2 linked regions of the Homo sapiens genome follow. The protein of the gene in region 2 purifies or fractionates together with the protein of the main gene of each other region. This does not show direct contact. Each region holds a gene or a part of one and is shown on either strand. Other genes may lie near its edges.

Evidence for each region.
Region 1: the proteins of PLXNB1 (region 2) and SMPX purify together in Homo sapiens (affinity purification with mass spectrometry; 2 studies listed by BioGRID and IntAct, with this or other methods). This does not show direct contact.

Annotation. Positions count from the first base shown.
Region 1 is NC_000023.11:21,706,117-21,713,116, reverse strand, and holds part of SMPX (small muscular protein), read left to right. Parts: intron 1-2,418; exon of another isoform or gene 2,419-2,431; intron 2,432-6,722; 3' UTR 6,723-7,000. UniProt on the Homo sapiens protein: Plays a role in the regulatory network through which muscle cells coordinate their structural and functional states during growth, adaptation, and repair.
Region 2 is NC_000003.12:48,403,273-48,406,170, forward strand, and holds the end of PLXNB1 (plexin-B1 precursor), read right to left. Parts: intron 2,527-2,898; coding exon 2,452-2,526; exon of another isoform or gene 2,451-2,451; intron 1,319-2,450; coding exon 1,214-1,318; 3' UTR 582-1,213; downstream 1-581. UniProt on the Homo sapiens protein: Receptor for SEMA4D. Plays a role in GABAergic synapse development. Mediates SEMA4A- and SEMA4D-dependent inhibitory synapse development. Plays a role in RHOA activation and subsequent changes of the actin cytoskeleton.

The DNA of each region.
Region 1 (7,000 bases), on a different chromosome or scaffold from region 2:
TACTGAGTCTTTGGACCACTCATTACCATCATTGTGACTGTGAAAACAATCAATCAATCAGCTTTAAGGTGATCACTATGACAATGTGCTTTCCAGGTATGCATTATGGGAAGAAGGCAGGGAGGCCTACATTTGTTTCACATGTTCTGTTAGTTAAATGCCAAAAAAATTAGTTTTCCATTTGGTTGCTCCAGAACCCCTGGCTGCCACAGATCATTGCTGGACAGTTGTAGGAGGATTCTTGGTACTTCTGATACAATCACCATTGTCTCTATGCCTTGAATGCCAAGGCATAAACAATATAGAAAGATGTTGTCATCTTTGGAAAAGCTGAGAACCTCTTGGTTAAGACAGCAGTCTCCTTGACTTATTTATCACTTTGTCTACTTCTAGATGTTATTGAACTCTGCCTTGGTAGGGAAATCTTGGGTCAATATTTCTCCAATGAAGTCGGTGGCCCCTTTAGAGACAGGGAGGACTGGGTTCTGATGGATGAAGAGAAATTTCCCACAAAATCTGGAGCTGCCTGTGGTGACTGGTCTTTGATGATGCCCCTTTCCCCACCAAGATCTCACCAAACAAATGTATCTCAGTTGCCAGCCCCTAACTCTGAGTTGATATCCAATATAACAAACTCTCAATACAATAGGATTAATAAAAAATATTTTAATGAGATTCAACCTGGATATGCAATTTGCCTTTTCCTTATGGTCACTCGAATTATCCCGGTCCTGCACTTAACGCTACTTTAATCTGGATTTCAGGTGCAGGATTTGACCAAGGCAAATGTTCTGGTCTTTATGTCTTCCTCTTCTTCCGTTTTTATATAATTATTGTTAGAAGGATTTCAATTTTCATTTTAACCACCGAAGGCTTCATGAGTTGCAAAGGCAACTTTGGTGGATGTTTCACAATTTAGGAAAAAATGTTCCTAATTTTTACTTAGAGTTTTGTTTCTCTGACTTTACAAGTATCTGTTTGGGAAAAAAGAAAGAGTTTTGGGTTTGGAGTTGTTTGGGTGCAATTCTAGGCTGAGCGCCTCTCTGAGCTTGGGTGTGTGTTGTTCCTTACAAGCCTTAGTTGTAGCTTGCACCACCTTCCTTAGGGTGTGGTCCTGATGAGTAAAAGGGACAATATGTGTGAATGTGCTCTGTAAACTCTAGAAGACTTTACAAATGCCAGGCGTTTGTCTTATTTCTGATGCCCTCTAAGGAACTCCAGAGCTTTAACCAGTTTGCTCTGGGTGCATGGTTGGCCATTGCATATGGAACCAGACCATGAGCCACTGCCTTCTCTCAAGTACTTTCGAGTGTCACTGTGTTTATGGCTCTATGATTTAGCACCACATAGGAGGAAGTAATCATTGCACTGCCCCTGAGTGTCTGGTTAAAGGACAAAATGCAGACAAGTGTTGAGTGGACTCCATTTCCCACATGATGTAAGTGGGGCCACGGCAACTATGAGTTACACAGCTATAAATGGGTCACAGCAAGGCGTAAACATCACATGTTCCTCAGTCTGGACTTAGGGTGACACAAGGGAGATATTTGGTGTATCATCCCCACACCAGCCAAGATGTGCCCTTCCCAAATGTAAACTAGAGGTTTTGCTTCCATGTCATTTTTGGTCTGGGTATAAAAGTTACGTGGGGTAGCTAGAGAATGACTTTTCAGCTGGTTGCCATACCTTCCCCATCATTCTCACAAATGTCCCCATACAGGAGAACAGGGCACAGGAGAATAGCTGACAGCTGTTGTCTAGGCAGCAAAGCAGCGTGGCCCTGGAGACAGCCCAATACACTTGCATTCCAACACCCTGACAAACAAGAGTGCTTTACAGAGTGGGCAATTTTAGCTCTGGATCCCTTCCCATTGTTTCTCATTTCTAAATTCAAGCCCTGACACAGAGCAGGGAGCTCAGGTATCTGGATTCCCGAATTTTTGTATTCTGGTATCATGCCAGCATCCCGAGCACATGCTGAGTCCCACAAAGCCAAGGATGGAGACTCTGGCCGTCTGGGGACTTTGTACTCTGGGATGGACTATATCTGACGTTATCCATCAGTGCATTCCTGTTTCCAGGCATGTTGGGCCTTCTTGAATTCTACCGGGACCCGGGAGTGGGGGAAGCTGAGGGACAGGGTGATCTGCAGGAGGACACCTGCAATGGCTCCTGCTTCATCTGCCACCTCATGCCTGGCTCCTTCTGCAAAGAAGAATCAGGTTTATTTTGTAGGCTGAACAAGGTAGCTGTGTAATCAGTTGGTGGAGTTCCTGGCACGTAGTAGGTGCTCAAAACTGGTACTGCCACCATCAGCTGTTTCTCCACTCCCACATGAGCACAGGTTGATAGCACTGGCCCAGCTTCCCCCTCTTCACAGTTGTATTCAGGCCTCCCTTGGCTCTCAGCTGCAGTAAGTAAAGAGGAAGAGCACAGTTCCCCTGGGGCTAATGTTATGTTAAGAATTCCATGCATTTATTTTCCTAAATATGGTCATCTCACAGTGGTCGTGGTGGTCTGGGAAAACTGGATCAAGATTTCTCTGTTTTTAAAAAAAATTTTATTTTCATAGCTTTTGGGGTACAAGTGGATTTTTTGTAACACAGATGAATTGTATAGTGATGAATTCTGAGATTTTAGTGCCCCCGTCACCTGAGTAGTGTCCATTGTACCTAATATGTTGTTTTTATCCCTAGCTCCTCTCCCACCCTTCCCCTTCTGAGGCTCTAAAGTCCATTATATCACTCTGTATACCTTTGCATACTCATAGTTTAGCTTCACTTATGAGAACATACAATTTTTTGTTTTCCACTCCTGTGTTACTTCACTTAGAATAATGACCTTCAGCTCCATCCAAGTTGCTGCAAAAGACATTATTTCATTCCTTTTTATAGATGAGTAGTATTTCATGGGGTATATATACCACATTTTCTTTATCCATTCATTAGTTCTCTATGTTTATAAAACTGTCTCAAAGTCAGAGAGGCCTATAAGCTGAACCCAGTCGTGAAGGACATCTTATGACTCTCCAATGCAAATGGCTCATCCTATGTTTCTCAGTATAGCCATAATTTCACCTATCTATCTGGGACAGATAAAGGATTATCAGAGTCCATATCAAGTCTGCCATATAAATGGTACCCATTTCTGGGTTGCAGATGGTGCTTCTCAGTCTGGACACATCTTGGAGAGAAATCACACCTCATAAAACATGCTTCAGTTACAATTTCCTATGGATCATCACCCATTCCATGCTGCTCAGAGAAGCCCAAGGAATACCTCAGCTTCAAGGGAAGCTTGTCATGGGCCTCTTACTTAGCCAGAGAGACTGGCCATATGTCATCCAGCACAGTGACCATAGCAGTAAAGTGGCTACAGCATACCCTGGCCATCATGGGGCTAGAGCTGGGACCTAGGGCAGAATTGGCAGCATAGTGGAGACATAGCACATCAACCCAACACTCCTGGATTTCTGCATCTATGAGCCTTCACTCATTACTGCTGACTCACATTGAAGAATGTGGGTTTGGCTATAACTGCAACTCCAGTTCTTTTCCTATTTTCATTTCTCCAGTAGTCCAACTCATCAATCACTGGACCCCTGCTATGTGTCAGGTGCCATGATAGGCAATGGGATGTAAAAATGAATAGGACATATTTATATCCTTAAAAGATCCTAGCCTAGTGGCAGGGCAGCTATAGTGGGAAACATGAGGAGTGAGATGATGCATATAAGCAAATAATCACAATTCAGCATGTTACATGGAGAATCATGGGGAGGTTGGATTTAAAAGTTATAACCAAAGAGGCGAGGCCCAAAGGCTCTTGTCATTACAGGAGCAAAAAGTGGTCTAGTGAACTCAGAATATAGGATACTTGAGGGAGAATGACCAGAGATGAGCCTGGATCCTGATACCCCAGGATGAAGCTGTGAAATTGCTGGTCACTCAGAAACCATGGGCTGGGAAGGAAGTGGTATCTTACTTCCACTTTGTGACTGGCATGGACTGAAAATTGATAATTTCTTAAAAAAATTAGTAAACAACCTAAACGTCCATTGGTAGATGTATGAATAAAGAAAATGTGGTAACACACACACTGGAATTTTTATCCTGGAATAAGAAGGAAACTCTGCAATATGTGACAACATGGATAAACTTTGAGGACAGTATGCAAAGTAAAATAAGTCAGTCACACAAGGACAAATACTGCATGATTCCACTTATATGAGGTGGCTAAAGTAGTTAAACACATAGAATCAAAGAGTGAAGTGGTAGTTGTACAACATTGCTGTACAACATTGTACTTATGGTCAACAATAATGTATTATACACTTAAAATGTATTAAGAGAGTAAATCTCATATTGTGTTCTTTTGATAATAAGATAAAATGCTGGGGAAATACAAGAACCTATGCTGACTGCTCTTGATAGCATTTTCAGTTTTGCAATCATTAATAACTTCCTACCTTTTCCTCTGGTTCACAAACCATCCATACCTTGTTAGTGGAGTAGAAACAGCCCTAAAGTCGGGACACCTCTGTTAAAATCCCAGCTTTTCTATCTACCAGCTATGAGACTTTGAGCTAGCTACTTTGATTTTTGAACTTCTATGTATTTCATCTCAACAGTGAGTACAACACAACCTGCATCACAGCAATGCTAGAAATGTTCAATGACACTATGGGCTTTGTGATCTCTAAAGAAATATACAAGAAAGAGAAGCTTTCTTATAGAGAGATCTCTGCTATATACTTCTCTGGATTCAATGGCCAGAACTGGGTCCCATGGCTCCCCCTAGCTGTAAGAGAGACTGAGAAATAGAGTATATTATTTCACTCACCAGCCTTTGTAGTAGAGAAAAACAAGGGTTATGGAGGGTGCCAAACCAGAGTTTCTGCCCCAGCAGGGGGAATATCCTTGTGTATGTAGTTTTCTTTCTCCAGCCATTGGCAATACAAAAGGTGAGCATTCCATTTTTAAGAAAAGATTCAGCTCACTCACATAAGTAAAACACACAAGGAATGACACCAAAGACTAATGGAAAACAAATGTGTAAATAGTGTTCAAGAATCCCTGCATTACAAGAGCTTTGAAAAGAAGTGGCACCATATCAATTAGCTATTGCTGCATACCAAATCACACCCCAAATTCAATGTTTAAAACAAGATCATTTCTTATTCTAACTCATGTGTTTTGGCCTCAGCTGATATAGGTTGGGCTCAGCTGATCTTGGCTGGACTCACTGATGTGTCTGCAGGTCATCTGGGGGCTCTGCTCTACATGGGGCCTGGTTAGGGTGCTTTAGCGGGGGTGGCCCTGCTCCACATATTTCTTGTCCTTCTTCTGGGATCAGAAGGCTAACCTGGCCACACCCTTGTTATGGCAACAGCAGAAATACAAGAGTAAGCAAAAACGTGATACCTTTTGAGGCATAGGCTCAAAACTGGTACACCATCATTTCTGCCTCATTCTGTTGGCCAAAGCAAGATGTGTGGCCAAACTCAGGCATGAGGAATTATACCCCACCCACAGTGGTAGAAAACTACAAAGTTACATGGTAGTAGGGAGAGGTGAAGAACAGGAGCCATGAATGCAAATTTACCTCAGGGATCACTGGTCATACAAGCCATAATCATAAGACTAACAATATACTCTAATCCTTCAGGAGAAGCTATCTTAATTTAGTTTAGAATTACTTAAATCACTAGAGCCAAAGTTGATGGCCACAGCATCTACCCATAGTTCATTTACATTCATGGAATTGAGAGATGAAGTTTTCAAGTGAAAATGGGGTCTTCAATGTTGACTTATTCCTATCATATTGATTTATAAGCTGTCCCTAACATATCTCATGAAAATTATACTAATGATGAACCTGGAGGACATTATGCTAAGTCAAATAAGACAGTCATAGACAAATATGGCATGATCTTACTTATATGTGGCATCTAAAAACATTAAACTCATAGAGGCAGAGAGTCAAATGGTGGTTGCCAGGGGCTTGGGGTGGGGGGTGATGTGGATGGGGCGATGATGGTTAAAGAATAGACCGAATTTCAGATACATAAGAGGAATATATTCTGGAGATCTCGTATTAGTCCGTTCTCGTGCTGCTATGAAGAAATGTCTGAGACTGGGTAACTTATAAAGGAAAGAGTTTTAATTGACTCACAATTCTGCAGGGCTGGGAAGGCCTCAGAAACTTACAATCATGGCAGAAGGGGAAGCAAACACGTCCTTCTTTACATGGCAGCAGCAAAGAGAAGTGCAGAGCAAAACGGGGGAAAGCCATTATAAAATCATGAGATCTCATGAGAACTCACTCACTATCATGAGAATAGTATGGGGGGAACCGCCCTCGTGATGAAATTATCTCCATCTGGCCCCACCCTTGACATGTGGGGATTATTACAATTCAAGATGAGATTTTGGATGGGGACACAGCCAAACCATATCGGATCTATTGTACAGCATCATGACTACAGTTAATAATGTATCCTTGAAAATTGCTAAGAGATCTTAAATGTCCTCATCACAAAAATAAGTATGTGAGGTGATGGATATGCTAATTATGTTGACTTAATCATTTCACAATGTATGTATGCATATATCAAAACATTGCATTGTATACTGTAAATATATACCATTTTTATTTGTCAATTATGCCTTAATGACACTGGAGGCAAAAAACTCATGGTTCCTTTGGTTTTTCTTTTTCAGGATTGATGTGAAGAAATAAAGAGGCAGAAGATGGATTCAATAGCTCACTAAAATTTTATATATTTGTATGATGATTGTGAACCTCCTGAATGCCTGAGACTCTAGCAGAAATGGCCTGTTTGTACATTTATATCTCTTCCTTCTAGTTGGCTGTATTTCTTACTTTATCTTCATTTTTGGCACCTCACAGAACAAATTAGCCCATAAATTCAACACCTGGAGGGTGTGGTTTTGAGGAGGGATATGATTTTATGGAGAATGATATGGCAATGTGCCTA
Region 2 (2,898 bases):
CAACCCCCTGCCCTACAGACCCAACTAGCAACATGAGACCAGATAAGACAGTCTCCAAGCTCACCTCCAGGTACAAATCAGGAAGAACCATATAAGGCGGCCTTCATGGAGGCAGACAGTTTAGGAGCCGGCCCTAGGATGCCCTGATTTGGAAGGCAACACAGAAACCCTAAGTCCAGGAACAGGACCATGGAAAATGGCCCTCGAGACCCCCTCTGCCTAGAGTTGCCTGTAATTATGTCATCCTTTCCTAGTCCCTTTCAAGATAAATAGAACATGAGTGGAGAAGTGAGAATACGCAAACTGCAGATAAAGCAGGCCCCCTTGAAGAGACTGTAGACCCCTCTATCTCGGTCACCCGCCCTGCCCCAGATGGGGTTCTTCCTTCACGGAAGCTTTGACCCCACCAGACCCTGCCCAGGCGTCAAGGAGAGCCTCAGCCAGCCCTGCAGTCTGGGATATGATGGGGAACCATGAGACTCCCCAAGAGTATAGATACCACCTCCCCCTGGTACCTGCTGGGCATAGCTGCCGTCCTCCTAGTAGCCAGGGGCTAGGCCGGGCTCACACATCAGACTCAGTGCAGTGTGTTATCCTTTAATGAAAAGCTGGGTCAATGGAGTCACCACTCTCCCCAAGACCCCCCTGCAGCAGATAGCCCTCACCATGGCTACCTATGAGGCAGGGCAGCCCTGTGGCAGCCAGCCCTGCTGAGGGGTCAGTTTGTAGTGGCCTAGGAGAGGCGTTCAACTCTTAGACCTAGGATGTGGCAGCAGCAACAAGGCCAGAGGCAGCTCAACTGAGGTCAGGGATGGTGGAGGAGGCAGACAGGAAGCATGGGGCTCTCCTCCTTCCTCTCCGAATCCCAGTGTGGCCAAGGCCAGTGTTCAGGAACAGTACAGTCTCCCCAGGGGCCTGGAGTCTCTTCCAGCCACTCTCTGGAAGCCCTTAGTCCCCAACTCCCTGCAGACCGGTGTCACAGGGTCGCTGGACTCGGGGAGCAGGCTGGGTACTACCCCATGAGCCTTGAGGCCCCGGGTCTAGGAGGTGGATCCAGCAGGGCCGAGGCCAGAGCCACCAGGAGACTGGGAGTCACCTTCCACTAACTCTGCTTGTCAGTCACTACAGGCACCTAAGAAGGTGGCCTCTCCTCCGAGCTTCCAGGGCTGCCCAGGCCAGGCTGAAGCAACAGCAGGCCGTGGCTCCTGGGTTCCTATAGATCTGTGACCTTGTTTTCCACAGCAGCTGCAATCTGCTGGAGCCGATAGCCCAGCTGCATCTTCTGGGCCGTGCCATCCTCCTCCAGGGCAGTGATGATCTGAAACAGAGACCAATGCCATCAGGGGAGACTTCTTTGGCCAACGTGTTTGCTGCAAAATTCAACAGCCCTCCTAAGACGCTGTGGCATGAGTGGGGTAGGAGGCCAAGAAACCCAGCCGGTCACTTCACGTACTTTCTGGGACCTCAGGGCCTCGCTGGCGGGAGGGGTAATAACATCAAAGTCACCGCGGGGTTCCAGGATGAATAAGGTAGGAAATGAAGGACCTGACTCAGTAGCGAGCTCCTCAGAAGCCCTGCTGCAGCCATCCTGGCTAACCCACCCGCCAGCCAACAGTATTTCCCAAGTTCCTGTCTGCCCGGTGCCAGACAAGGGGCAGAGACCCAAGAATGACCAGACACGTGGTGGGAAAACAGACACTGATCAAACACGAACCACGAATTTGGGGCTGCCACCAAGGGAACCGGTAGGAACCGGAGGGCAGCAGCACTTGGGAAAACAGCTACTGCCCACTATGTCTCCACAAGGGGACATGCCTGCATCACACCCTGCCTCCCCCAAGCCCCGTGCCATGGCCCACACCATGCCGAGGAAGGCTGTGGGCCATGAGACAGGTTCCTCATCTCTGAGCAGCAATAGCCATGTCACTGGTGCCACACAAACATCTAAGTGGACTATTCCACCAGGCATCCAGCAGGTTGACTGGCAGGTGCTCAGCTCTTCAGGCACAGCCCAGGGATCCTCCAAAAAGCTTCACCAGCTCCAGTGTACCCTCACACCCCTGGCCCTGTGCCTGGACTCTCCTCTTCGCAGCTCATGCAGCCAAGCCAGGCCTGCACTTGCATGTTGGCCGTGCCCAACATGCTGCCAACTCAGCAAATGCACACCATCTCCAGGCCCTGGTAGACCCCTTGGCCCCCACAACCACCAGCACTGTGCCTCGCCGTCCTGCTGGGGAGCTGGAATGGGGAGCAGTGGGACAGGTGAGAGCACAGCCAATGCCAGGAAGCCCGCCTGGAAAACACTTCTCAAGCCACCAAGGGGCCCGGCCCCCCACTACTCTGTCCCTGGGGAAGACCAAAGCCCCCAACGTGAGTCACAGGGTCAGAGCCCCTTAAGTCTCCTGGGAGGCCTTGGGTCAGCCTCCCAGTCGGGGTCCAGGGCCTGCCCACCTGGTCATAGTACTTGTTGATGTACTTGTAGAGTTCATGCAGGGCCACTCGCGCCCCGAGGTCTCCGGAGTAGTTCTAGGGAAGAGGCCAAATGAAAGGTGAGAGAGACGAGGGGTGCAGAGAGCCACAGGAGGCAGCCCAGGACCCCAGGGAAGGGCTGGGGGAGAAGGGGACCTGAGAGGTAGAGAATGGGATGGGCACTACAGTGGGAAGCAGAGTCCCCTCCATGGCCCAGGGACCCCAGGCCAGGTGTGCCAGATGGGGACAGAACAGGGTAGAGCAAGGGGGCCTCCTTGGTAGGAAGACAGCCCAGGTCTACCTGCTTCAGCAAGGTCTGGGGTTTCCACTGAAGCCCTGCCTCTCTCACCCCCTTGAGGTTCTAGCCCAGACCCTCTGCCACCCAGATGACTCCAGAGCCAAGTGGCACAGATGCCACTTGCAGGCTGA